Regions from separate parts of the Homo sapiens genome. Here regions 2, 3, 4 and 5 are each reported to be linked to region 1. Evidence: microRNA targets listed by miRTarBase, many of them from high-throughput screens and not tested one by one. Region 1 holds a microRNA gene; each other region holds the end of a gene's coding sequence.
The links. Region 1 holds the annotated microRNA hsa-miR-5009-3p (UCCUAAAUCUGAAAGUCCAAAA, at 3,744-3,765, opposite strand). A microRNA usually pairs through its seed, bases 2 to 8, with sites in the 3' UTR of a target mRNA and lowers its output. Matches are read on the target gene's strand: a 7mer-m8 pairs with bases 2 to 8, a 7mer-A1 pairs with bases 2 to 7 and ends in A, and an 8mer does both.

Region 2: miRTarBase lists MEIOC as a target of hsa-miR-5009-3p. Seed matches in the 3' UTR shown: 7mer-m8 at 1,415-1,421.
Region 3: miRTarBase lists STOM as a target of hsa-miR-5009-3p. Seed matches in the 3' UTR shown: 7mer-A1 at 2,299-2,305.
Region 4: miRTarBase lists ATP13A3 as a target of hsa-miR-5009-3p. Seed matches in the 3' UTR shown: 7mer-A1 at 895-901 and 7mer-A1 at 2,358-2,364.
Region 5: the mRNA of CCBE1 is a reported target of hsa-miR-5009-3p. Seed matches in the 3' UTR shown: 7mer-m8 at 3,843-3,849 and 7mer-A1 at 596-602.

Annotation. Positions count from the first base shown.
Region 1 is chr15:89,880,206-89,885,312 of GRCh38, forward strand. MIR5009 (microRNA 5009) reads right to left here and starts at 3,825; the gene lies at 3,726-3,825. The region is part of intron 7 of ARPIN-AP3S2 (ARPIN-AP3S2 readthrough); the gene reads right to left. The region is part of intron 3 of AP3S2 (adaptor related protein complex 3 subunit sigma 2); the gene reads right to left.
Region 2 is chr17:44,673,123-44,678,229 of GRCh38, forward strand. It overlaps MEIOC (meiosis specific with coiled-coil domain), which reads left to right. Exons shown (of 8, transcript NM_001145080.3): 7 at 244-424; 8 at 854-2,679. The coding sequence ends at 1,074. CCDC43 (coiled-coil domain containing 43) reads right to left here. Exons shown (of 5, transcript NM_144609.3): 5 at 4,318-5,107. Among named protein-coding and RNA genes, the nearest start is that of CCDC43, 14 kb to the right of the region's middle.
Region 3 is chr9:121,336,681-121,341,787 of GRCh38, reverse strand. STOM (stomatin) reads left to right here. Exons shown (of 7, transcript NM_004099.6): 7 at 380-2,801. The coding sequence ends at 586. Among named protein-coding and RNA genes, the nearest start is that of STOM, 31 kb to the left of the region's middle.
Region 4 is chr3:194,401,653-194,406,759 of GRCh38, reverse strand. ATP13A3 (ATPase 13A3) reads left to right here. Exons shown (of 34, transcript NM_001367549.1): 34 at 644-4,083. The coding sequence ends at 841. Among named protein-coding and RNA genes, the nearest start is that of GP5, 4.9 kb to the right of the region's middle.
Region 5 is chr18:59,431,333-59,436,439 of GRCh38, forward strand. CCBE1 (collagen and calcium binding EGF domains 1) reads right to left here. Exons shown (of 11, transcript NM_133459.4): 11 at 1-4,809. The coding sequence ends at 4,576. Among named protein-coding and RNA genes, the nearest start is that of LMAN1, 75 kb to the left of the region's middle.

The DNA of each region.
Region 1 (5,107 bases):
AAGAGGGAAATGCTAACTGTTAATTCACTTCTAATTATAATTATAATCCAACAGGGACTTTTTGGGACCTTTACAAATTATTCAAGAATACATATGGATGAACAAATAGTTATAAATATCAGAGAACGTACTGAAAAACAACTGCCACAAAGGGGAAATAACTAGTCTTACTAGGTATGTGAAACTATATTGAAACAATAAATAGCCAGGTGCAGTGGCTCACGCCTGTAATCCCAACACTTTGGGAGGCCGAGGTCAGGAGTTTGAGACCAGCCTGGTCAACATGGTGAAACCCCCGACTCTACTAAAAATACAAAAATTAGCCAGGTGCGGTGGTGGGCGCCTATAGTCCCACCTATTCAGGAGGCTGAAGCAGGAGAATCGCTTGAACCCAGGAGGCGGAGGTTGCAGTGAGCCGAGATTGCGCCACCGCACTCCAGCCTGGGCAACAGAGCAAGACTCCGTCTCAAAAAAAAAAAAAGAAACAATAAATAAAACAACATGAAAGTAATGCAGAAAGAAAAATGTAACTCAGTTAACTCAGTAGAATAAAATGAAGAAATGAAGGGTAAAAACTAAATCCAATTATGTATTAAATGTTTATTCAACCATTGTTAAAGGTGTGATGACTACATGCTAGGAACATACCATTGTTGACACCACAGTCAACAAGTCATGTTCTTATCCAGTTTATATTCTGGGTGTGGGAAGAACAAGGAGGCAAATGAAACAAGATATTTTCTATTGTCCTAAGTGCCCTGAAGGAAGTAAACAGGATGATGTGACAGGGGTTACTTCAGATAGAGTGCTAAGAAAGTTTGTCCAAGGATTAAAATTCGAGCTGAGACATAAATGGTAAAAGTCAGTCATTGAAAGAGCTGAAGTGAAGGAACCTAGATGAGAGTATTCCAGGGGACAGAACAAGTATAAAGGCCCAGACACAAAAATGTACTTGTGTTTGAAGAACAGCAAGAAGCCTAGAGCATAGTGAAGATGAGCGTGTATACGGTGAGGGGAGAGAGAGGCAAAGGAGCCGGACCATGTTGGGCCTTACAGGCTGTAATAGGGGGCTTGGGTTTCACTCTGAACTTAATACAGTATACAACATTAGAGTTTCTTCAACAAGGGGAGGTAAAAATGGATTATTTACACTTAATATAATAGGTTAGACAATAATTAGTTAAATAAGTTTTAAAATAAACTCAAAATACGCAGATTTACTTATTTGTTGATGATAAGGCAAACCATTATTTTATCTAACAAAGAAAAAAAATGCTGCCAATTATAATTGTTAAGATGTCACCCACTACAACACACATCCAGATTTTAGAGTTATTGAAGTGTGATAAAATGCGCACCTTAGAATATACAAAATATGACATTATAAGCCAGGATCTAGATTTCACTGGACAAGTGGTTCAATTATATTATAGAAGGCTGACATGGAAAACAAAATTATAAACCCACACGTGGAAAAAGGAAGCATGATTAATAAAAATTCAAATGTGTGAGGTACCTCTACCTGGGTAGAAATTTAAAATGACACATTTCAGTACTGGAGTTACAAGGAAACAAACTTATATAGTACTAGAGGCATTATAAATTAACATACTCTTCATTTTTTTTTTTTTTGAGATGGAGTCTCACTGTTGTCGCCCAGGCTGGAGCGCAATGGCACGATCTCAGCTTACTGCAACCTCCACCTCCCGGGTTCAAGCAATTCTCCTGCCTCAACCCCCCAAGTAGCTGGGATTACAGGTGCATACCACCACGCCCGGCTAACTTTTTGGATTTTTAGTAGAGACAGGGTTTCACCATGTTAGCCAGGCTGGTCTTGAACTCCTGACCTCAGGTGATCCGCCCGCCTCGGCCTCCCAAAGTGCTGGGGTTACAGGTGTGAGCCACCGTGCCTGGCTAACATACTCTTTCTAAATATCTATCTAGCAACATGCATTATGATTAGAAATATTAATTCCCTTTGATCCAGGCATTCTGTTTTTAGCAGAATAGGCACAACCGTTTGCATAAAGACTTAGAGTAGTTTTATTCATATTAATTAAAAAAAGAAACAAAGTATCCAGTGTCTGTTATCCTAGGTGCTCTGCTACCTGAATCAGCTGAGAACACTCATTTTACCCCCCTGTTCTGCTTTGACCTACTCTTTTTTTTTTTTTTGAGACGGAGTTTCGCTCTTGTTGCCCGGGCCAGAGTACAATTTCAGCCCACCACAACCCCCGCCTCCTGGGTTCAAGAGGTTCTCCTACCTCAGCCTCCTGAGTAGCTACGATTACAGGCATGTGCCACCACACTCGGCTAATTTTTTGTATTTTTAGTAGAGACGGGGTTTCTCCATGTTGGCTAGGCTGGTCTCAAAGTCTCCTGACCTCAAGTGATCTGCCCGCCTCGGCCTCCCAAAGGACTGGGATTACCGGCGTGACCCACTGTGCTTGGCCAAAAGCTACTAATTTCCATATGTTAAACTTGTATTTAGTCACCTTACAGAACTCTATTATTAGTTCCAATTGTTTCCAACTGATTTGGATTTTCTAGATAATCAATTCATCTGTAACTATTATACATTCTGAAAACTAGTAAAGCAAATCTCCCATCACTGTCCTTTTTCCCTAGAAATATACTTCTGCATTTCTTGGCCACTCCTTTTCCCTGATAAATTTTGCCTTTACTGAGTTCTATAAACTCTCCTGACGGAATTATACTTGGTTTTCCATTTGATGTATTGCTCACCACCTTTGGGACTACTGTCATCTTTGCTTGACTCTTCCCAACAACGGGAGAGTTTGTAGCTCCATTTGTTCCAACTATTCCTTTGTTTTTTCTTTAAGATTTTATAATTTTATTGGAATCAATGTCAAGTATTCCATACCAAGTTAATTCCCAAGCACTAACTATCCTTTATTATTACTGTAAATGAGACTTCTTTAATTATGAATTTTCTAGCTGTTTTCTCAGAAATAGGAAATTTAATTTTGTTGGCTTTATCTCATATTCTGTCATTTTGCTCATATCATTTCCTTACTTATAATTCTTTAAAAATATTTTCTATGTCCATAATCCGGCCACCTTACATTGATAACTTACCTCTCTTTCTTTCTTTACTATGTCACTTCTTCATTTGTTTTTGTATCACTCACTACAAATGTTTGTTAAAATTAGAGTAAACAATAAAAGATACTCCTTTTTTTTTTTTGAGACAGAATCTCGCTCTGTCACTCAAGCTGGAGTGTAGTGGCATGAATATGGCTCACTGAAACCTCAACCCCTTGGGCTCAAGCAGTCCTCCTGCTTTAGCCACATGAGTAGCTGGGACCACAGGGGCACACCACCTGATTTTTTATAGAGACTAGGTCTCACTATGTTGCCCAGGCTGGTCTTGAACTCCTGAGCTCAAGTGATCCTCCTGCCTCAGGCTCCCAAAGGGTTGGGACTATAGGTATGAGCCACTGCACCTGGACGAAACACCCAACAAGAGCATTCATAAATGCCTACAGATTTCACCCTTGAGATAACATTGGCTCTGGTTCTTGGCTCTTGGTTTTGAAACTAAAATTGATTGCTTCAAGGAAAGTAAACTAGGTGATAAGGGGAAAGGGGAAGAAGGATATTTTTCACTATACAGGTTGAACACTTAAAATCCAAAAACCTGAAATCCAAAACACTGCAAAATCCAAAATTTTTGAGTGCCAACATGATGCTCAAAGGAAATGCTTATTGGTCATTTCAGGTTTTGGACTTTCAGATTTAGGATAAGTATAATGCAAATATCCCCAAATCTGAAAAAGTCCAAAATCCAAAACACTTCTGGTCCCAAACATTTCAAAGGGATATTCAACCTGTATACTCATAGTGTGCCTCTGAATTCTGAACCACATAACTATATTCATTTCTTCAGAAAGTAAACAGTTACATTAATAAATGTGTACTTTTAATCAAAAATGCTTCTTATTCCAGTTTGAGTGTATTTAATATAATTTGTATAATCGCTCCTCTCAGCAACTACTAATTTTTATTATATTAGTTTTTCTTACTGCTATAATAGACTATTAATTTTTCTTTGTTATACTGACTTGCATTCTTGGGATAAATACTATTTGGACACAATGTATAATTCTTCTATTTAATAGTATGCAGTTTTCCTGCTAAAGAAATAATTTTAGGGCTAGAAAAGAATATCTAGTATCTTTGTAGATTAAAAAAAAACCACTCAACACACAGAAGAGACAAAATGCAAAACAAACAAAAACCCTTAAGGCCAATAAAGCCTAGATGATTTGTTTAAGGTCACACTGCTTGTTAATGGCAGAGTCAAAAAGAAAAAAAAGGCAGGTCTCACAATCCCTTGGTTCAACTGATTGTCGGCTAAGATTTTACTTAGTAAGTAATTTTGTACCAGTACTAATACGCAATATTTGACGAACATCTTCCCCTTTTTTTTTTTTTTTGAGATAGAGTCTCACTCTATCACCCAGGCTGGAGTGCAGTGGCGCAATCTCGGCTCACTGCAACCTCCGCCTCCCAGCTCAAGCGATTCTTCTGCCTCAGCCTCCCGTGTAGCTGGGACTACAGGCGCATGCCACCACACCCAGCTAATTTTTTTTGTATTTTTAGTAGAGACAAGGTTTCACCATATTGGCCTGGCTGGTCTCGAACTCCTGACCTCGTGATCCTCCTGCCTCGGCCCCCAAAGTGCTGGGATCACAGGCGTGAGCCGCTGTGCCTGGCCCATCTTCCTTTTTAGAGTCAGGTTTTTGGATGATAACCAATTTATTCCATAAAATGCGCTTAGGTAGTAGGATTCCTTGTTCTAAGTTTTAAAAAATAACTTAATGTAACATCCAGGTTTTAATGTACTTCAACTTTAAAAAATTCTACTGTGACCCCATTAGGGAGTCAGTTCTTTTTTTAACATCTATTATTTCATCCTAATATTATTTCAGTGCCTTTATGTTGACCTCATTTGGGCAGTTTTTTGTTCTTGTTTTTTTTTTTGAGATAGAGTCTCGCTCTATTGCCCAGGCTGGAGTGTAATGGTGTGATCTCAGCTCACTGCAACCTCTGCCTCCCAGGTTCAGGTGATTCTCATGCCTTG
Region 2 (5,107 bases), not on the chromosome of region 1:
TTTTCATTGATGCTTATTTTCAGTAATCAACTACCACATATTTTTAGAATTAACATAGACAAGTAGATAGAAAACACTTTCCATTTTTGTTTCCCCCAGCATGGTGTCAGGACACAGTAAGCATTCTTTGATTTATTGAATGAATATTATTGCTGTCATCTCTATTCTGCTTCACTGAAGATTTGTTTTTACTTAAGTTAATGGCAGGACATGTCTTATCAAAATTTAAAATGCTTCCCTCAGGTTGTGACTTTACTAGGCAAAATGGAACGTCTTCGGAGTTCTCTTCTTCATGCCAGTATCTCTACTGCTCTTGATAGACACTTGGAGTCTATTCACATTGTACAGTCACGTAGAAAGGATGAAATTGTTAATGCTTCCAATCGGCAAAGGCAAGGAGTTCCTAGATGCCAAGATGACAGAGGTACAAATATTAATGCATATTCTTGTGATAAGTCAGTGTGATAATTTAGGTATTGATAAAATCAGATTCTGAGGTTGAAAGATTAGATTTCTAAAATTAACACTTACCTACAGAATAAATTGGTAAATAATCTCCACATTATTTACTCCAAAAGTATTTCCATTTTATTAATTTTGTCTGTTATAACTGTTTCAAGACAGTCTGTGTTCTACTCAAACTATAGTCACTATTGTACAAGTCAGAAATAAAGTATCAATACTTTTAAATATTTTAATGATAAAGGACAGGACTTTGGTTCAATCAATAACTATCCTTTTTTTACAAAAATAACATTTGATCATTTAGTAGCAAAAGCACTGGGTTTTGTAAGATTTAACAGATATTTAAATGGCATTTAATATGAAATGACCCTGAATGTTTATTTTACAGATGTTTTTGCCCTTGCTTCTGCAATTAAAGAGATGTGTGTGGCTACTCGGAAAACACGCACTGCCCTGTGGTGTGCACTGCAGATGACCTTGCCAAAAACAGCCAGTACAGCTGATGTGGTAAAGCCTTTACAAGATACAGTAAACTGTGAAGATAAAGTCCATGAAAGCATAAATAGTAGCAATCCAATGAACCAGAGAGGTGAAACAAACAAACATTAAGGAAATGCCAGCAGAAAGAAGAATAAAAAGCTGATAAATATACCAAGACATGCTAAAAATGTTTTAATGAACTTGTCAAACTTTCAGTATGTTTTCTTTCAGATTTAAAGTTAATACCAGTACCTTAATGAAGTCTAACTTCTATTTAAAAATCTTCTATTTGAAGTGAATCCGATATAGTTTTAAGTAAACGCAAAGGTACAGTTGACTACTCAGAGTTCTGAGTAGTCAGATAACAAGTTTAAGTAAATTAAATATTTCCTAACAGCTAAAATGTGCTTAAACTCATTCTGCCATGCAGGTAAATGCAAATGTGAAATTCTTCTAGGAGATAAATTTCATTTAGGTTTGTCTTAGTTAAGTATAATTCCAAATAATGAATCTAAGTGACTGTAACCCAATTACGGCTACAGCCTAGTAACCAAGACAAGTTTTGATTGTGATATCAAAGTGTTTTCCTTACAAAACTGGATAATACCTGGGAAACAAAGGAAAATACGGATAAACCCAATATTCATGTACAAACTTAATATTTAAAATACTATACTACCATATTTATAAATTTGGAATCTTAATGCCTAGGTATATGGAGGGAAATGCATCTGATTCTCCTAAATTAATGATAAAAGTGTCAGTGTAAAAACCATGCAAGTTACTGAATATAAAACCTATTCAGATCATTTGTGTATATTCTTTAAATTTTAATTATATTATCAATTGTTAAATGTTTCCAATTTTAAAGTTATTTAAATTGAATCACAAAACATTCCCTTTATCTGGATCTTTTAGACTTGATGCACAGTAACTGAAATAATGACTACTGTTTTAATACCCTTAGTTTGCTGCCTTTTATGAGGGTGTCACGAAGTTCTAAAATGTATTTTTTTAAAGGTTAATCTCTAACTAGTTTAGCTTGCAATTGGTTAGTGTATATTTTGTGTAGTTGTGTTCATTAGTTTGCTTCTAAGTTCTAAAATGTATTTTTTAAAGGTTAATCTCTAACTAGTTTAGCTTGCAATTGGTTAGCCTATATTTTGCGTAGTTGTGTTCATTAGTTTGCTTCTGTATTTTTTTAAAACTATTGAAAGCTTAACTTTTTCTGTTTCTCATCACTTAGTATCTTTGTATAGAACTTGAGTAATTTATTCGTTAATATGAAATGTTGGTATTATGTGACTCAGAAGATCTTGGGTTTTAACATTTCTAGCATGAGTTAAACTATAATGTACTGATGAAATTTAATTGAAATATCCTTGACTAGAAACACTGATGTTTTAAATGTTAGTGTTTTTCTTAGTTTTAGAAATTCTGGTATTAAAAAAAAAAAGAGTGTAATCATACCACATAAATTTTCTTTAGATGATGTGCAGAAGAAACTGATTGAGAATGCAAGAGTAACTGTAGGGAGAAACATTTTGATCACTGATATGCCTTAGAACTACCCAAATGAATTACATTGAGGGTAGTCAAATAAAATAGATCATCTCACCACAGTCACTGCATAGAAAGTGGTTAAGTTTAACATAAGACATGTTGGATGTTATAAAAACAAATACTGTACTGAATTTAGTCTCAGGAAAAAAATAAATTACTTTGTTGAAAACATTTGGTTTCATTTTTCTAAATTCATATGTTTCTAACCTTAAGAGTCACTCATATCAGAAAGTCAAATGAATTTCATTTAAGAACTTATACTAAGTTTTAGATTTCATTATTAACGCACAAGTAATAATGTTGGTTTATAAATCAATGCCATTCAGATATCCATGGATCTAACCAGATCTCCTTCAAAGATGAAATTTTTGCTCTATCTTTATGCTAATCCGTGTAAACCAGAATAAAAATTTTAGGGAAGCTTTTACATGATACTGGTCAGAAATGAAATACCAGTCCGTTAATAAGAACCAAACACTTAAAAAAATTCTTTGAAATATTGTTAATCATATCACCCAATAGATAATTTTTAAATTAGTCGGTTGTCCCTTTCAGTGGCATATCCTCTAACAGATGGTTCTTATGTACTTGTATTTCTGAATTACAACCTATAAAACATTGTACTTCTGAATTACAACCTATGAAAACATTATAAAACTTTTACAAAATTTGCAGTGAAACTGATAAAACTGATGCTCCCGCCATTTCTAATCTGAAAGAACTTGGTGTACTCATTCTTTTTAATGGAAAAAGCAAAATTACCTTGAGTTGTTATCAGTGTCCTTCTCACTTGAATAATCTGCTACTATAAAGTTTTAGAGGGTTGAGAATTTATGACTGAAATCCAAAATCTGGCCTAAAACTCAATCTTACCATAGAAGATATGGTTGTTTAAAATTTGCCCTTTGCAGCTGGGTGCCGGTGGATCACGCCTGTAATCCCAGCACTTTGGGAGGCTGAGGCGGGTGGATCACGAGGTCAGGAGATCGAGACCATCCTGGCTAACACGGTGAAACCCCATCTCTACTAAAAATACAAAAAATTAGCTGGGTGTGGTGGCACTCGCCTGTAGTCTCAGCTACTTGGGAGGGGGAGGCAGGAGAATCACTTGAACCCGCAAGGTGGAGGTTGCAGTGAGCCAACATGGCGCCACTGCACTCCAGCCTGGGTGACAGAGTGATCCGTTTCAAAAAACAAACAAAAAAAATATGCCCTTTGCAATACTGAACATTTTAGACGTAAAGGATTTATTAGCACCTGAGTCAAGTGGATAACTAAACTCAAAGCCTAATGAGCTGATCCTCTATTTTCTGTTTAAGCATTAGTTTGAGAGTATACTTAACTGTGACATACATAGCAGAGTCCCAGAAGAAAGAACTGACTACTAACAAATTGAAACAAGTACCCTTCAGGGGACCGTGGATATAACCTGACTCCTTCAGTGACAAAAATCAAGGTGAGAACAACCCAAAATCCCAAAATAAGGATTACTAAATTAAAATAGGCTCTATCATACCCTATCGCTACCACCACATAAAGGACTAAGACTGTAATAGTAAGGACCTCTAAGCCAATTTCCTGATGTTCCAAAAAACATGCTAATCTTTCTGATCTAATTCCTACTTCACAAAAAGGAAAATTGAGAAAGAGGATTTATGGATTCCAGGAAGAGCTTCCACTAGTGGAATATAAGTTATAGGGCTAATCAAAACAAAGCATAAAATAAAAATCAACACATTCCTAAGTAACTACTCACACATATTTCATTTCCATGGGTACGTAGAAGCAATCAAAATAAGTCAGAAGACAGCAATTTAAATAAGATTTATTTTTTTAAAGGTGGTTATTTTTATTTTTTGCAATGCCACAGTTATAGGAGTGTATGAAGAGGTAACATGTCTCCTTTTCCTTAACCATGTTTTTTTTTTTTTAACCTTCTGCACAAAGGTAAAAGTTTTTGTTAATCTCATAGTTAATGGTATAAAACAGAGATTGGCAAACCTTTCCTCCAACAGGCCAGGTAGTAAATATTTTAGATTTCACAGACCACATATTTTTTTCTTTTATAACTCTTTAAAAATGTAAAAATCATTTTTAGTTTGCACCATACAAAAACAGACTGGGCCAAATTCGGCCCGTGGGCAGTAGTTTGCCAACCCCTGGTATAAAATATCTACTTTGTCTTGTCAGAGAAATTGCTGTCCTTAGGCTTCTAGACAATCTGCTGCCTGAAGTCAAGTGGAGAAGGGCCTTATTTACAATTTAATGTGGTTTGTGACAGAAGTAGAAATGGAGAGCTTCTGCTCACTTTTGACTCTCCCAGTTTTTCCATTCACTCATTCATTCAATAAATTTGTTGAGCACCTACTATGTACACTCTTAAATATCTTGGTGTTAGCAGAAATTTCCAGTGTTTCTTCCTTAAAAGGGTGATTTCTCCAGTTTCTCCAAACCAGGAATTATTTCTTAATACTCATGTTTTATGGAAAAATCAGGATTAAAATCTCTACCAGCACACAAGAGGATACATGATTATACAAAATGAATCTAGCCAACAATGATATCCTTGCACCCAATAGTGACACAGCCTAGATGAGGA
Region 3 (5,107 bases), not on the chromosome of region 1:
TCAGTTTAGTAAGGTACTCATCAGAGAATTGGAAATGCTGCTGACTTGCAAAAGGATTTGCCTGCAGTCATTAAAGTTACTTGCTTTCTCAATCCTGCACAGTATTTTGAATTATCCCTTTGTTTGTTACCCTGGAAAATGGGAGAAAGGCTATAGTAAAAGAGAATGTCTTGATCCAGGCACTAGTCAGGCAAGTCAGTTTCAGAAAAAGAAGCATATGGAAACTGAGTATGTAGAAATTGATTTTCTTAAAACTACTCTGGCATACGCCCTAGAAAGTTTTGTGGACCACCTGAGGTATACATACCCCCGGTTGAAGAGTGCTGTGTGTCCCCATGAGGTTTTCTCCAGTTCAACCCCTCCTTTCACCTGTCCATAGGTTATTGCAGCCGAAGGAGAAATGAATGCATCCAGGGCTCTGAAAGAAGCCTCCATGGTCATCACTGAATCTCCTGCAGCCCTTCAGCTCCGATACCTGCAGACACTGACCACCATTGCTGCTGAGAAAAACTCAACAATTGTCTTCCCTCTGCCCATAGATATGCTGCAAGGAATCATAGGGGCAAAACACAGCCATCTAGGCTAGTGTAGAGATGAGCGCTAGCCTTCCAAGCATGAAGTCGGGGACCAAATTAGCCTTTAACTCATAAAGAGAGGGTAGGGCTTTTCTTTTTCCATATGTCAATTGTGGTGTTCCCAGAATGTATAGCAGTTATAAAAATAGGTGAAAGAATTGTTAGCTTGTAAATACTGAGAGATTGGTGATTTATATAAGGTAATCTGTTAGTCTTAAAATAGTTAAAAGTTTGTATTTTTAGATTATTATGTAGTAGGTTAGATCCCTCTTGTTTTGACTTCCACTGACTCATTCTGAACCCCCTAAGCACCCAGGCCAGAGGCAAGAACCTGGGCTGTAACTGCCACCTGACACCGCTGACTGGCTAAATGCTTTGCAGAAAGTGATGACCTTACACCACAACCAGCTTCTCCAGGTCATATGTGCCTTACCTCCAGAGAGTCTTTTTTTTTTTTTTTCTGAGATGGAGTTTCACTCTTGTTGCCCAGGCTGGAGTGCAATAGCATGATCTCGGCTCACTGCAACCTCCGCCTCCTGGGTTCAAGAGATTCTCCTGCCTCAGCCTCCCCAGTAGCTGGGATTACAGGCTCATGCCACCATGCCCAGCTAATTTTTGTATTATTATTATTGTTTTTTAGTAGAGACGGGGTTTCACCATGTTGGCCAGGCTAGTCACGAACTCCTAACCTCAGGTGATCCACCCACCTCTGCCTCCCAAAGTGCTGGGATTACAGGCATGAGCTACCACACCTGGTTTGGAGAGTCTTAATTAAGGAAATTTCCCTAATGTTCATTTATTTTCTAAATCCAGACCGTGTTTCAGAATAATCCTTACTTGAGAGTAGCCATTTTCTTGCCTGTACTTGTCAGAACTAGAGGAAATAGCCAAGACTAATGAAAAAGATTACTCTAACCCTTAAAAGACTTTTAAATTCACTACTAGAGTGGTCATTTTAAAAATACATCCATGTTTTAACTTATTTGAGCCTTCTTTATGAGTAAATGATTCCTCCTTGTTCTGTCTTTCAAACCAGCTAAATATTTGTCACAAAAGTGCTTTTTTCTCACTGTTGCCTATTTTCATATATCAGGTTTTAAATAGTTTTAATTTTTTAATAAAATTTTCTCTACGTTCTATATGCAATTGTTATATATCTATTTGAATAGCTGAAGGACTAAAATACTTTTTTAAGAGATAACTTCAGGAAACCATTATATTTTACTATCTGCATGCTGTTAACTGTGGTACACTGTGAAATATGTTGATTACAAACCCATTCATTACATAGTATAAGGAATTCACAGTATATTGACTATATAGTGTCTAATGATCTTGGGCAGATACTGTCAAACTTACAATATCTATATAGATGTAGGTCTTTTTAAATTTACCTAGTCATTCTTCTATCATGTATATTGATGCTGAAAGAGGAACTGGTCAGCTCCTCTGGACAACAAATTCTTAGTCTATAATATTAGGAGACATCTTCTGTTTTGCAAATGTCTGTGAATCTGAGCAACCTGGCATTCTGCTTACTGGCCAGAAAGCTGGCGGGTGACATTTGTAACATTTCCTCTTTGAGACTCTGAGTTCACCTAGAGAAGTCTAAGCATAACAGCTTTCTTTCCCAGCACGAGCCTTTATAGCTCTCTTTAGCTCAACCACTCTGTCCATCCAGCCAATGGATGTCCCTTCCCCTGTACCCCAATTTCAAGCTTATTTTAGGAAGCCTTGAACTACCATGTATCCTGGCTCCTAGCTGAGTTTATTAGAGGTATGGAGCAGTGCAACTTAAACTCAAGTTGCACTTACATTTTGAATTTTAAAATGATGGTTTTATCTGTTGTGTGAAGTGGTTCACCCTTGAGGACCAGGAGCCTCCATATCCTGACTGAAAACCTTTTCTGAGACTTAGAGTAACAGTGCTTTTGGTTCCTTGAGTTCTCCTGTCTCCAGATACCAAATGACCTTGACTTTTCTGCCTTGTGAATTCGTAGTCCAATCAGCTGAAATTAAATCACTTGGGAGGGACGCATAGAAGGAGCTCTAGGAACACAGTGCCAGTGCAGAAGTTTCTCCAGGTGGCCTCCCTTTCCAACAATGTACATAATAAAGTGTATGCACTTTCACTAATATTTTTGGGGTGAGAGTCTGTTTCGGCCTGTATTGAATGTCTGTGGATTTCCGTTTTCAGAAGTAGTACATTAGATCCTCCGGTTCTGAGCTGGCTGGTTGGCTTCTTCGTGTGCTTTGTGGGCCAGGGGAAGGGGACAGGCTGCTGTGGGCCATCTGCTGTCTCCCAGGTCCAGGCACCCTCTGGTGCACTGGCCCACACATTTTCCCTGGGGAGTTTCAAGATCCACACACACCCTCCACCACCACCACAAAGCTTTAACTGACTTCATTTTCTTTTGCCTTCCTCCAAACAGGACAGGAACCCACTTCTTGCTGTCACCCAGTTAATCACATAGACATAGCCTTTACTTAAAAAGAAACAAATAATGATAAAAAACCAATGTGTTTTACCTGCAACATCTGACAGAACTGTCTTGAATTAGTGGCTACCATTTGGGAGCACCAGTCACTCAGCTCTGTGCACAAATACGTGTATGTACATTCTATCATTTTATCTCAAAATGGTTTGATAGACACTTTATTATCACCATTTTGTAGATGAGGACACTGAAGGCTCAAAGGTTAAAACAGCCAAAGTCACATGGTCGGAAAGAAACAGAGCTGGGATTCAAACCCAGATCTGTCTAATGCCAAAGATTTGTGAGGTGTATCAGTGTATCTTCGTGTGACACTGCCTGCCTCTAGTGCCCCCATCCACACACCACCACCACCATTTTGTAGATAGATCACAACTTTTCCCAAGACTATCAAAGTTCATTTGTCTTTACATTCACACCTAACTGGGCCCTAAACTTAAACTTTTGTTTTGGGCCATCCAATTCAGCCAAAGTTCACTATAAAAAGAGGAGAGTCAATTGGGCATTTGTTTGTTTTTTTTTTTTCTTTGAGATGGAGTCTCGCTCTTGTCATCCAGGCTGGAGTGTAATGGCGTGATCTTGGCTCACTGCAACCTCTGCCTCCTGGGTTCAAGCGATTCTCCTGCCTCAGCCTCCTGAGTAGCTGGGACTACAGGCGCATGCCACCACGCCCGGCTAATTTTTGTATTTTTATTTTTAGTAGAGATGGGGTTTCACCATGTTGGCCAGGCTGGTCTCGAACTCCTGACCTCAGGTGATCTGCCCACCTCGGCCTCCCAAAGTGCTGGGATTACATGTGTGAGCCACTGCACCCGGCCCGATTGGGCATTTGTAACCACAAATGTCATAACACACTGTCCTGAGCAGGAGGAAACCAGTGTTCCATAGACTCTCAGCTTATGTAGCATTTTAAAATATATCATTTCTTGTGATACTCACAAACCTGCTCTCACAGTTACTTGGCTAGTAAATAGTGAATCAAGTGCCTCTTCCTCTTACTTTCAGCAGCAAACCCCTTTTTTCAAAGGTAACTGCATCAGTAAAAGGTTTACGGTGTCTTTTGCCAGGATAAATTCTTGAGTTCACATTTATAACATTTACTGAATATAAAGTAACTCAATGAGAACAATGAGGCTGTTTTGAAAAACAATATTAGAGTTACGAAAGAGTTCCAATCTTATATTCAGAGTCTACATTCGATTTCTCCATTTTGCTTGTCTGTTTTTATTACCACTTTAAACATGGAATTTGAATCTAATATTTACAAAATCACAGAAGCACCTCATAGAATTCTACATATTTCTGTTTGAAAATCACTGCTCTGGAGTGCTTTCCTTGCTATAGCATCCACTTTATAATGTGACCTTGGATAAGTCATATGTTCTCTCAGCCTCATTTTCCTCACCTGTAAAACAGGGAGATTATAGTCCAGCTGTTTGGGTCTCAGACCTTTTGAGAATGTGTTGGAAGCTACAGAGCTTCGTCTGAAAACTGCACATAGTGTGCACAACACAAATTTGGATGCTTTGGGGGTACACTGGCCCCACTCCCAAACCTATCCAAAGACTTAAGAAATCCTGGGCTAGATCATGTCTAAGATCCAACTACACAGCTATGCAGTTACCTGAAGAGTTTTTACTTTATAGGAACCAAGAAGAAGGCAAAAGGAACCACGGTTGAATGCCAGCACTGTGCAAGACACTTTACACAGCTTTTTTCATGTCCATGCATAATCTCATTTGGCTGTGTTGACCAGGCCACAGGAAAATCTCCGGGGATATTAGTGATGATCTCTTCCTGTGATGTTGTTAACATCAGGTCTACAGCAGACCCAGGCTCAGATCAAGCTAGGATTTGCCTAAACCAGTCACACTGGCTAATAGGATACAGCCCCTTTCAATCTACCCTGTAGCCAGAAGAGTTTAGTGAGAAAGGAAATTGAAGCCGCTGTTAAAACTGTGGTTTTACAATAAACTCTAGAAACATAGTAATCATAATGCAGGCTGCAAATCTTCCCTAAAAGATTCCGGGGGAAAA
Region 4 (5,107 bases), not on the chromosome of region 1:
AGAGATGATATTAACAGTAACAAGGATACTTGTACACAGCTTTCTTCCAAAAATGATCATGCGGCTAAGTTGCCAGGAGCAATAGTACCAAAAGATAGTTTGGGACAGAATGTGAAGATTTTCAAATTAAATATTAAAAATGTTTTCTCTTTCTGAATGGCTTAAAGTTCTTAATACATTAGATATTCTGTGGTAAAGAATCCATATCTGCAAGTTATTTAAAAGGTATTAGTACACAAGAGTATAGGTATATAAAACTAAATGAAGTCAATCATATTGATTATCCCCCCAAAAAAAATATAATCTAAAGAATAATCAGTTCCTAAATAATTGAAAGCTGCCCTTACAAAATAAAACAAAAGAACACACATTTCGTTGTGTTGCCCAGGCTGGTCTCGAACTCCTGGGCTCAAGCAGTCCTCCCACCTCGACCTCCCAAGATGCTGGGATTTCGGACATGAGCCACCACGCCCGGCCAAAGCTGCCTTTTTTTAACATGGATTTTTTTTTCCCCCATTCGTTGTGCTCAGAAGTCATTTCCTCTTATTTTTCTCTGCTAATGTGTGCTTTAACAAACCTGTTTAAAACGACAAGCCTTTAATCAACTGGGGTGTTTTGTTTTGTTTTTTTCTTATTTTCTTAGGAGTCAGTGGATCGGTGGGGAAAATGCTGCTTACCCTGGGCCCTGGGCTGTAGAAAGAAGACACCAAAGGCAAAGTACATGTATCTGGCGCAGGAGCTCTTGGTTGATCCAGAATGGCCACCAAAACCTCAGACAACCACAGAAGCTAAAGCTTTAGTTAAGGAGAATGGATCATGTCAAATCATCACCATAACATAGCAGTGAATCAGTCTCAGTGGTATTGCTGATAGCAGTATTCAGGAATATGTGATTTTAGGAGTTTCTGATCCTGTGTGTCAGAATGGCACTAGTTCAGTTTATGTCCCTTCTGATATAGTAGCTTATTTGACAGCTTTGCTCTTCCTTAAAATAAAAACAGAAAAATATATCGTCCTAACAGTTAAATTAACAATCAATCCATAAAGTCCTATATCTTCATTCAGCAACCCAAATATTACATACATTTCCAGAATTTTCTTGATTGTTACTTTCAGTGATATTCTTTATATTGGGTACAGGAGAAGTTTGGTGTTTGGTAGGTTTTTCAACATTAGTTTTTGAGACTAGTTTACCTCTTCACATTTATGCTCACAACCCTCTTGTTAGAAAAGTCTGTGTTTATATACAGGCTGTAAGTTTGTGATTGATAAAAAGAAGATGAGTGTTAATTAGCCTCCAGTGAAAATATACTGAAAGCCTGTTTTCATTTGATTCCAATGTTTCTTCCAAAGAATTCTGTATAAACATATGCCAATTCCCTATGATGGTCTAGAGTTAGGAATGAGTGTTTATGGTGTTGCTTATAGAACAACTCAGGTAATCTCCATTTCTGGTTTTATATTTTCTGTACAAACTGCCTGGGTTTTATTTTTCTAATCAGCAAGGTGCTTCACTGCCTTCTTGAGACGCCTCTCAAAGCTCTTAAATGGCTCCTGTGCTATGTGTGGTGTTGGCAGTCTAATTTGCTTCTGTTAAATGTTGTAGAACCTTTTTCACTAGGAAATAAGATTCATTTCTTTCGGCAGTAGATGTAGATTCATCTTTTAACGTTTCTTCAAATTTGTTTCTGTCAGGCTTTGTGTTATTTTAAATGGTTTTTTAAAATTTTCTTCTATGTTTTCAATTACCTAAAGACATAGGATAATAGTTTTTTTTAAGTTAGAATTTTACCTCATAAAATTTTTTGAGGTTTGATGTATGTCTCTGTCTTATCAATAATGAGGCTTAAAAAATACTGGATTTGAATGGCTGCCGTTTTTTCAAAGCAATATGAATTTGATGAGTTTGTTTTATGCCATTAGGTGGCGCCAGAGGTCAGAACATGTCTATTTTGAATTGGATCGTTACAAATGAGCATATTTGATGCGGAAATTTCTGGGAGAAAAAAAATTGAGGAAATAAAGTTAAAAAATTGACATTCATTGAGCCAAAAGAGATGTGGAGAAACATTTTTCACCTTTCTGTTTGGCCTGATTAACATTTAAATTCTTGCCAAAATTAAGGTAACTTTTAAAAAACACCTTTTATAGGTGGATCCAGCAGTCTGGCAACGCCCACAGTTACCACAACACAGAAAACTGATCGTGCTATAAAATGGACGCTAAACTATGAAAACAGTGTGACATTGTTCTCTGTTCTTCCAGAGCCAGTAACATGCTTGCTCGTGCTTTCTACTTCTAGCTGATCATTCTTTTCCCAACATATATTTACAAATTTACCAAATTTTACCTAGAATTTTAGGACCAAATGGTTCTCACTCTTTATGCTGCAAAGACCTGGATGATGTTTGGTAACTATAGAAAAATAGAAATTACACTCAGGATCACTGTTACTGCTATTGCCACTGATGATTCCTGCAAAAATATAATCGAAGTTTTCCATCAAATGTATAATATGCTATTAATACACATTAGATGATAACAGTTGTTCCATGAATGATTCTATGAAGCTATGCATCTTAGACCTCTTGAGCTGTGAATTAGCACTATTTTCTATAGTTACTTATTCTCTGGATCATTTTATAATTTCCATATTAATTTCAAATATGCTCGTGTTATTCTTCAGTGATTTCCACAATTGTGCATTTTATTCTTTGGTTTAAGTACTGAAGCATATAATGAAAGTAATTGCTAAGTAGCAGCTTAAAAATTCAATTATCCGATTGTATTTAACATCTTTAAGAGCATGATCATAAAGAGCTATTTTTGACACCCCCCCCCCACTTTTTTAACATTTAGAGTTAGTAAGGGTTTTATATCTCTTCTGTCCATATTGTTTTCAAAGGAATGAGGTGTTTAGGTGGCTGGAAAAGCATTTGTAGGAAGTTAGATTTGAATATAGACAAGGTGGGTTATTCACGTTGAGAATGTTATTTGAAGAATGCCTGTGAAGCCAGGTGTGGGTTCTACTCAGTGCCATAGATAGACTGAGTCTTCTCTCGTAGGTTACCATTACATAGTAATTTTGATTCTGAATTTCACATTAAATTATTTGAGTTTATACAGACCTAAATTTTAAAATCTGTACATATATTATTTTGATGTATTAAGATGAATATTGCTGATTTAAATTTTATTTATGCACATACTTAAAGGACAGAAATGTCTGGGAAAGTAATTGTTAAATAATGATATGTAACTTTTTAACTTTTTAAATAAATAACAAGATTTTTAATGTGTGTCTCCCTCAGGGTTGTTTAAAGTTTTTTTTCTCCCTCAAGTATAAATAGTGGTAACTATATGTTTTGTATCTTCTAGCACCAACTGCTGTAAAGCAATGCTGCAAATAATGCTTGAATACAAGTGGCTAAGCCAACAACAGAATAAATACTTTTATAGTAGTTTTATAATCCTGAAATTCGAAAGCTTTCCCAATTGCACTTGCATCTAAACAAAACTGTTGCAGTTTTTACTCTATTTATTTTGTTCCCCATGTTTATGAAAGTCCTGCACAGTTTCAAAGGCATGGTAAATAATATATCAATGTTTATGTAGTCTGTTACAGAAACAGCTATAGATAACATTATCCAGTGAAGAGCAAAATTCAAGCTTTAGAAAATATTCATGCATGCAATTTTGACATATCTAAAAATAGGTTTTTGTATATTTATGGTGGGAGGTGGTTGGGAACTTTTAACAAAATGGGGTGTTAATTTTTGTACAGTCTGTGGGCATTTACACATTTTTAATGTATTAAAATTTGGTAATTATGTGTACATTAAATTAATAAAAGTTACTTCTAGTTATGATTTGTGAATTCCCTAAGACCTTGGATTTTTTTAAGTAACTTTATATCAGAAATGATACTGCATCTTTATATTTTTAAAATTGTATTGCTGCTCAAGAATGGTACCCTCTTGTCAAAAAGGCATACATTCATAATTGTACATTCAGCATTGTAAATAATCTTATGAAACCTTTTTTGATTGAAGCTATTCAAAATAAAAATTTTAATGAATGAAATAACACTTTTTTTCTGTGTCTTTATTCATTTGTTTGCTTTTTAGTGACATGAATACTGCCCTTTGTGGATTTATTTTCCTGCCTAATAATACTTCCCCATTTCCTTCTTTTTTTTTTTTAAAAAAAACTGGATTTTGAAGGAAATAAGAACAACATTCTGCATATCATGCCATGTGTGTGAGCATCCTGGGGAAACCCCACAGTCGGATGCAGTGTAGAGCCAAATGTTAAATGCGAGGAGGTCTGAGGGCAATGGTGAAATGAAATAGAAGAGTAGGGACTTATAATCTATTAATAGTTGGGAGAATCAAACCAAAAGCTAATACCATGGAGAGAGAAAATGGTTGTAAAAATCCCAGAGAAGACAGGACCTTTGTGTGTGGGTGGGAGTTGTTTCCATGGAGCTCAGCTCCGGGAGACACGGAGCCCCTGCTAGGGAATATGTGGCTGGCTGTGGTGTGATGAATTCGGGGGGTGAGGGCCTGCCTGCCTTTAGCTCAAGTTCTTAACAGTCGCTATGGTTTGTGCGGCATGTGTGATCCTGTCCCCACAGCCTGCTGGTGTGGGCACAGTTCTGCATGTCTCTCCTTCCGCTGTATCACTGCCAAGGGACAGGGAGTCCTAGGGGCTTGAGTGAGACTGTCCGTGGTCCAAGTTGGGGTGTGGTTGCTCCCTGCTGTGCCCGGCCCACTGAGTCTCCCTCAGAGGAAAAAGGCTTATCTCACCCAGGCACAGACCTGCTTTTGAATAGCCAAGCCCCTTAAGCCAGGTAACTGTTTTACAGCAGACTTCTGACCTGGTAATGGATACAGAATCTTAAGACTTGGAAGCACTGGAGCTGTCAACTTCCTTGCTCCAAATACTTCTCATTACCTCATCAACTTGCTCAGTGGATGGACTAAGAGTGTTCCCCCACTCTGCAACTGCCATACCTACTTTTCCCTTCCTGGACAATCAAAGTGTCTTCCTAAGGGACAAAATGTAGAGGCCATTCTGACTGGAGGTTTTCCTGGGGAAATAGGCT
Region 5 (5,107 bases), not on the chromosome of region 1:
TCATCTATTTCCCTGAACTCATTATTAATAACTTTAGATGGCTCTATTCTACTTGTTGTTTGGCCTGGATTCCTCCAATAACTTTCCTTTTCAGGAAGGTTATTTGACAGATGTTAAGTCTGCAGAATGAGGCTGCTGTGGTTGTTTCTGGGGCACAGGCTGAGAAGTGGGGAGAGAGAGTGGGGAATGACACCCAAAATATGATGGGGGAGTTGCTACCTGAAAACCTACAGAAATGTCTGGCCTGGAGAAGCCCTCCCTTGCATACCTGGGAACAGGGCTCACCAGGCCCACAGCAATTATGAACCTTGGAAAGATGGCCAAAGCCAGGGTGCTCTTCGCTGGTATTTGGTGGGGTAATACTCACCTTTCCTTCCTTCCAAAACCAATGAACATTTATTATTTACTTGTTGGGCTATGATACTCCTGAGTTTATACAGTAGAAATGACTTCCTTTGGTCAATGAATCCAATGGCAGATGTCGGGCATTAACTCAGAAGGTGAGAAAAGGCACCATTCTCTCTGCAGCCCCACTCACTTTTGGCACAGTATAGCTTATAATTTCTCCCTCTGGAACTGGGAAGGGAGGGGGGTTTCCTAAACTAAAATGCATGCCCTCCATGTACTATTTTCTTTTTTCGAGACGGAGTCTCACTCTGTAGCCAGGCTGGAGTGCAGTGGCGCAATCTTGGCTCACTGCAACCTCCACCTCCCGGGTTCAAGCAATTCTTGTGTCTCAGCTTCCCGAGTAGCTGAGACTACAGGCGTGCACCACCACGCCTGGCTAATTTTTTTTTTTATTTATTTTAGTAGAGATGGGGTTTCACCACGTGTTGGTCAGGATGGTCTTGATCTCCTGACCTCATGATGCGCCCGCCTCAGCCTCCCAAAGTGTTGGGATTACAGGCATAACCACTGTGCCTGGCCCCATGCACTATTTTCAACAGCATATTTTTATTCCCATTGCTTTCCAAGAACAGAGGCAACTTATGAGGTCCTGTGAAGAGGGTGCAAAAAATCGAAGTCAACATTTCTACTAACAGGTTGAGGAGGTGTACAAAGATCTTTTTCCCTATAAAACATGAAATGACCTAGAAGCACTGTTACAAATCTTACCCCAGAAATAGCTTTCCCATTAGGTTTTGAGCAGAAGTCCTGTTTAGACAGTAAAGCTTTTTCTATCTAGTTAAAAGATACATTAGAAATAATGATGCCTTATGATGTCCTATCTTTGAAAAATATGATTTGGGCATAAAAAGTACATATCAGTCTTGCAGTAGTCCAAGTTTTGAAAATCTGAGGATTAAAAATTATTTTCTAAATTAACTTGGTCCAGCAGATTGACATTATAAAATACAGGTTACCATAAGTTTTGCTGGAGAATATTATCTGGAATAGTTTCATGAAACCCAGACAATACTACTTTCCATTAATTCTTTTAATATATTATTCTAGCCTATGGCCAAACATGCAGTTTGGTTGCATTTTATGAGCATTTCACAATAAAGATCATATTTCTAAATACAGTTCACTGTCAAAGAAAAGGTATTAAAATTCTTCTTTTAAAAAAAATCATAGATGGACCTAGCCATCTCTCATACAGCTTGTGCATAGTTTTGTGTGTTTTTTTTTAAACATTCATCCATCCACACCCTTTAAATACCATGCTCCACAAGCAGGCAAACATTAAATATATTCCAGATGGGAATCAACAGCTGTTCAGTTCCTCTCTCTATAAACCCGTGGTTGGTGTGGCCCTCTGTCATGAATGTTGAATTTTGCAGAGAGAAGGAGGAAGGAAAGATGCTAGATAAAGAGCACCCCACCCTAAAAAGAAATTTTTTCTTTTTAAAAAGTCTCCTTTATTCGAAAAGAGGCAGACTGGTTCCTGGGGTTACTGCCCTTCTAGGGGAAAGTGCCACATTTAATAAAACTTATTTTTTTTTTTTTAGGGATGGGGTCTTGCTATGTTGCCCAGACTGGCCTTGAACTCCTGGGCTCAAGGGATCCTCTCGCTCACTTTTTTTAAAGTGAAAGTTTGCTTTCACTTTAAAAATGTTAGTGGAGAGTCACCAGGAATTTTGCATAAATGAGACATAGAGGAGCAAAGTGTTCATGAAAGACTCGGTCACATGCTGACTGACATGAGTCCTGCATTTCCAACGTGGTAGGAAGAAGGGAAGGAAGACTGTTGCCACTAGAGGTTTGCAAAGCCCCTTCCTAACATTCTTAAGGAAGAAGACTGAAAGGTGGCATTCAAACACAACAAAAGGGATATTTTTTTTTTTTTGAGACAGAGTCTCGCTCTGTCGCCCAGGCTGGAGTGCAGTGGCACGATCTCGGCTCAGCGCAAGCTCCGCCTCCCAGGTTCACGCCATTCTCCTGCCTCAGCCTCCCGAGCAGCTGGGACCACAGGCGCCCACCACCACGCCCGACTAATTTTTTGTGTTTTTAGTAGAGACAGGGTTTCACTGTGGTCTCGATCTCCTGACCTCGTGATCCGCCCGCCTCGGCCTCCCAAAGTGCTGGGATTACAGGCATGAGCCACCAAGCCCGGCCTTTTTTTTTTTTTTTTTTTTTTTTTAATGAGACAGAGTCTCCCTCTGTTGCCTAGGCTGGAGTGCAGTAGCGCAATCTAGGCTCCCCCCGCAGGTTAAAGTAATTCTCCTGCCTCAGCCTCCTGAGTAGCTGGGATTACAGGTGTGTGCCAACACGCCCAGCTAATTTTTGTATTTTTAGTAGAGACAGGGTTTCACCATGTTGGTCAGGCTGGTCTCGATCTCCTGACCTTGTGATCTCCCCGCCTCAGCCTCCCAAAGTGCTGGGATTAGAGGCGTGGGCTACCACACCCGGCCAAGAGGGATTTTCTTTAAGCAAGCTTTCACAGTAGTGGAGTTAAATGATGTGGGCTAAAAGGTGGAGGCAAAAAAGCCAAAAAGAAATGGGAAAGGACATGGCAGGATGGGAAATTCCAACATGAGCTAATATGAGTGTGAGAACGATCATTTGCAGGAGAGTGAAAATCTCCCGCAAAGGTAGATAAAGAGCCACTTTGTGTGTCCAGTGAGAAAGTGGACTGTGAGTAACCTATAAGCTGCTCATTGGAAACAAGAGGGCCCTCAACAACGTTACAAAGGAGCAGATCATCCTTCTGGTCTCTTGCTCCTGGTGCTTCTGAATCCACAGCAAACCTTGGCAGGAACATGCTTCCCTTTGCCACCCAGAGGTGCTCTGAGAAAACACTCTAACTCACTAGGAGGTGGAGATATAGACCTTTTTCTGAACTGCTTCTCACATGCAGGGGAAAATAAATCAAAGAGAAGGCCTAAAAGAACTGGAACTTGGACTAAATTAAAGAAAATTAAGAAAAAATGAGAATAGGAAGGAAGTTTTTGCAAACAAGGAAAACCACTATTTTTTTTTCTCCCCATCCAAGATAACTTTCAATAGTGTATTACTCTCAATATGTTGGTGGCAAGCTTGGTTGGCTCCAGACAAAAACTTGTAATACCCAAGGAGAAAAAATTTACCTACCGCTGCTGATGGCATTAGTGAGGTCAGCCCAAGCCAGCAACCTCCTTGCAGACTTCAGCCCCACTGTATATTGGTTCAGCCTGGATCATGGCACCTAATGGTACCTTCTGGGCACCTGCTCAGAACCAGGAATTCTGCACCTCTCTCTAAGCTCAGCCAGTTTATTGAACAAATAATCTATATTTATAGAGCAGACTCCACTGTTGATTAAACAGCTTTAAAATATTATAGCAAACGAGAGCCCATTGTTTTAATGTGAATCCAGGCATTTCACTTTGTTTTTTTGAAAAGAGAGTTTAATCTTCTTCCCTAAATAGGATACTTACAGATAAGCATGGCATGAAACCTTAAGCACCGTATTTGAATTTTAGAATGTGGCAATCTATATAACAGTAAATATATGACTGTGATTCTTTTCTATCTTCTCTAAACGCCATTCAATTCTCTCCTCTCTTTAATTGAATTTGGGAAACAAGGTTTGACAAAGGGATACAATATTTAAAGTCTACTAGAAGCACAAGGAAAAAATTCTCCACCAAAGCACATCGACACGTTTGTCCTCCCCACCCCTTTTTAACTGAAGAGCCCCAATTTTGATACTAGAGGAGTTATGGTCTATTGTGAACACACATCTTAGAAGTAGCCTCACATTTTCTTAGAGCTCACTTTGTCATTTTCCCCCTTTTGATACTCTGCCAAATTTAACTTCAAGAATTTATGATTTAAGACACTGTGAGAGTACTTAAATCCAAAGTTCCTGGAAAAATAGGATGTAAAAGAAAAGTTACAATGCAAACCACCCCAATGGACTCTTAGTGAGAAGCAGGTAAATCAATCATTCACTCCCTCATGTCTGCAGGCCTAGGAGGGGACTCTGAAAATAGCATCGTATTTGGAAGAAGAGGAGTGGAGAGACGTCAGGAGAAGAGAAGAGAAAAATGTATGTTTTCTAGGTCTCCAGTGGTCTTTCTTCTCTTTAGATGGTTTAACTGCAGGTGAGTTGATCTTTCTCTTCCTTTGGCGTGACGGTGTTGGGATGTGCTATGGGTAGAAGTCTCTGGGGGCTCTCAAGTCTCTTGTCTCAGTTCTTCTTGGATGGTCATCTCCAGAGCCCAGGTCCATGGCTTCTGGGTAGCTGGGAAATTCCTGAGGTAAAGGGAACTCCTCTGCTGAAGAGTGAGTCCGGTGCCCGAACACCTTTTCCTGCAGCTCAGTGATGTCATTGCGGATGTCAGCCAGCATAAGTAGCAGGAAGTCGAAAGAACCAGGGGGTCCCTGTGTACATGGGAGGAATCAAAGCTAGAATACGACAGACAGCAATGGCCTCCGGGGCTCCATGACTTGACCTGCTGCTTGCTGGCAACTACTTTCTCAATAACTCTGTGCCCCAAATGGAGCCAATGTGAGGACTGCTACAGGAGCCTGGGGGTCCTCCATATTGTTTTCTAATTCTGTCACTTCTCAGCTGAGCTTTGGTGATGTATTCACCTTTCCTCCCTCCTAACGCTTTATCAAATCCAGTAGAGGAAAGGATATAAGAATAACTCTCCTAGGTTACTTTCCAAAGCAGTCT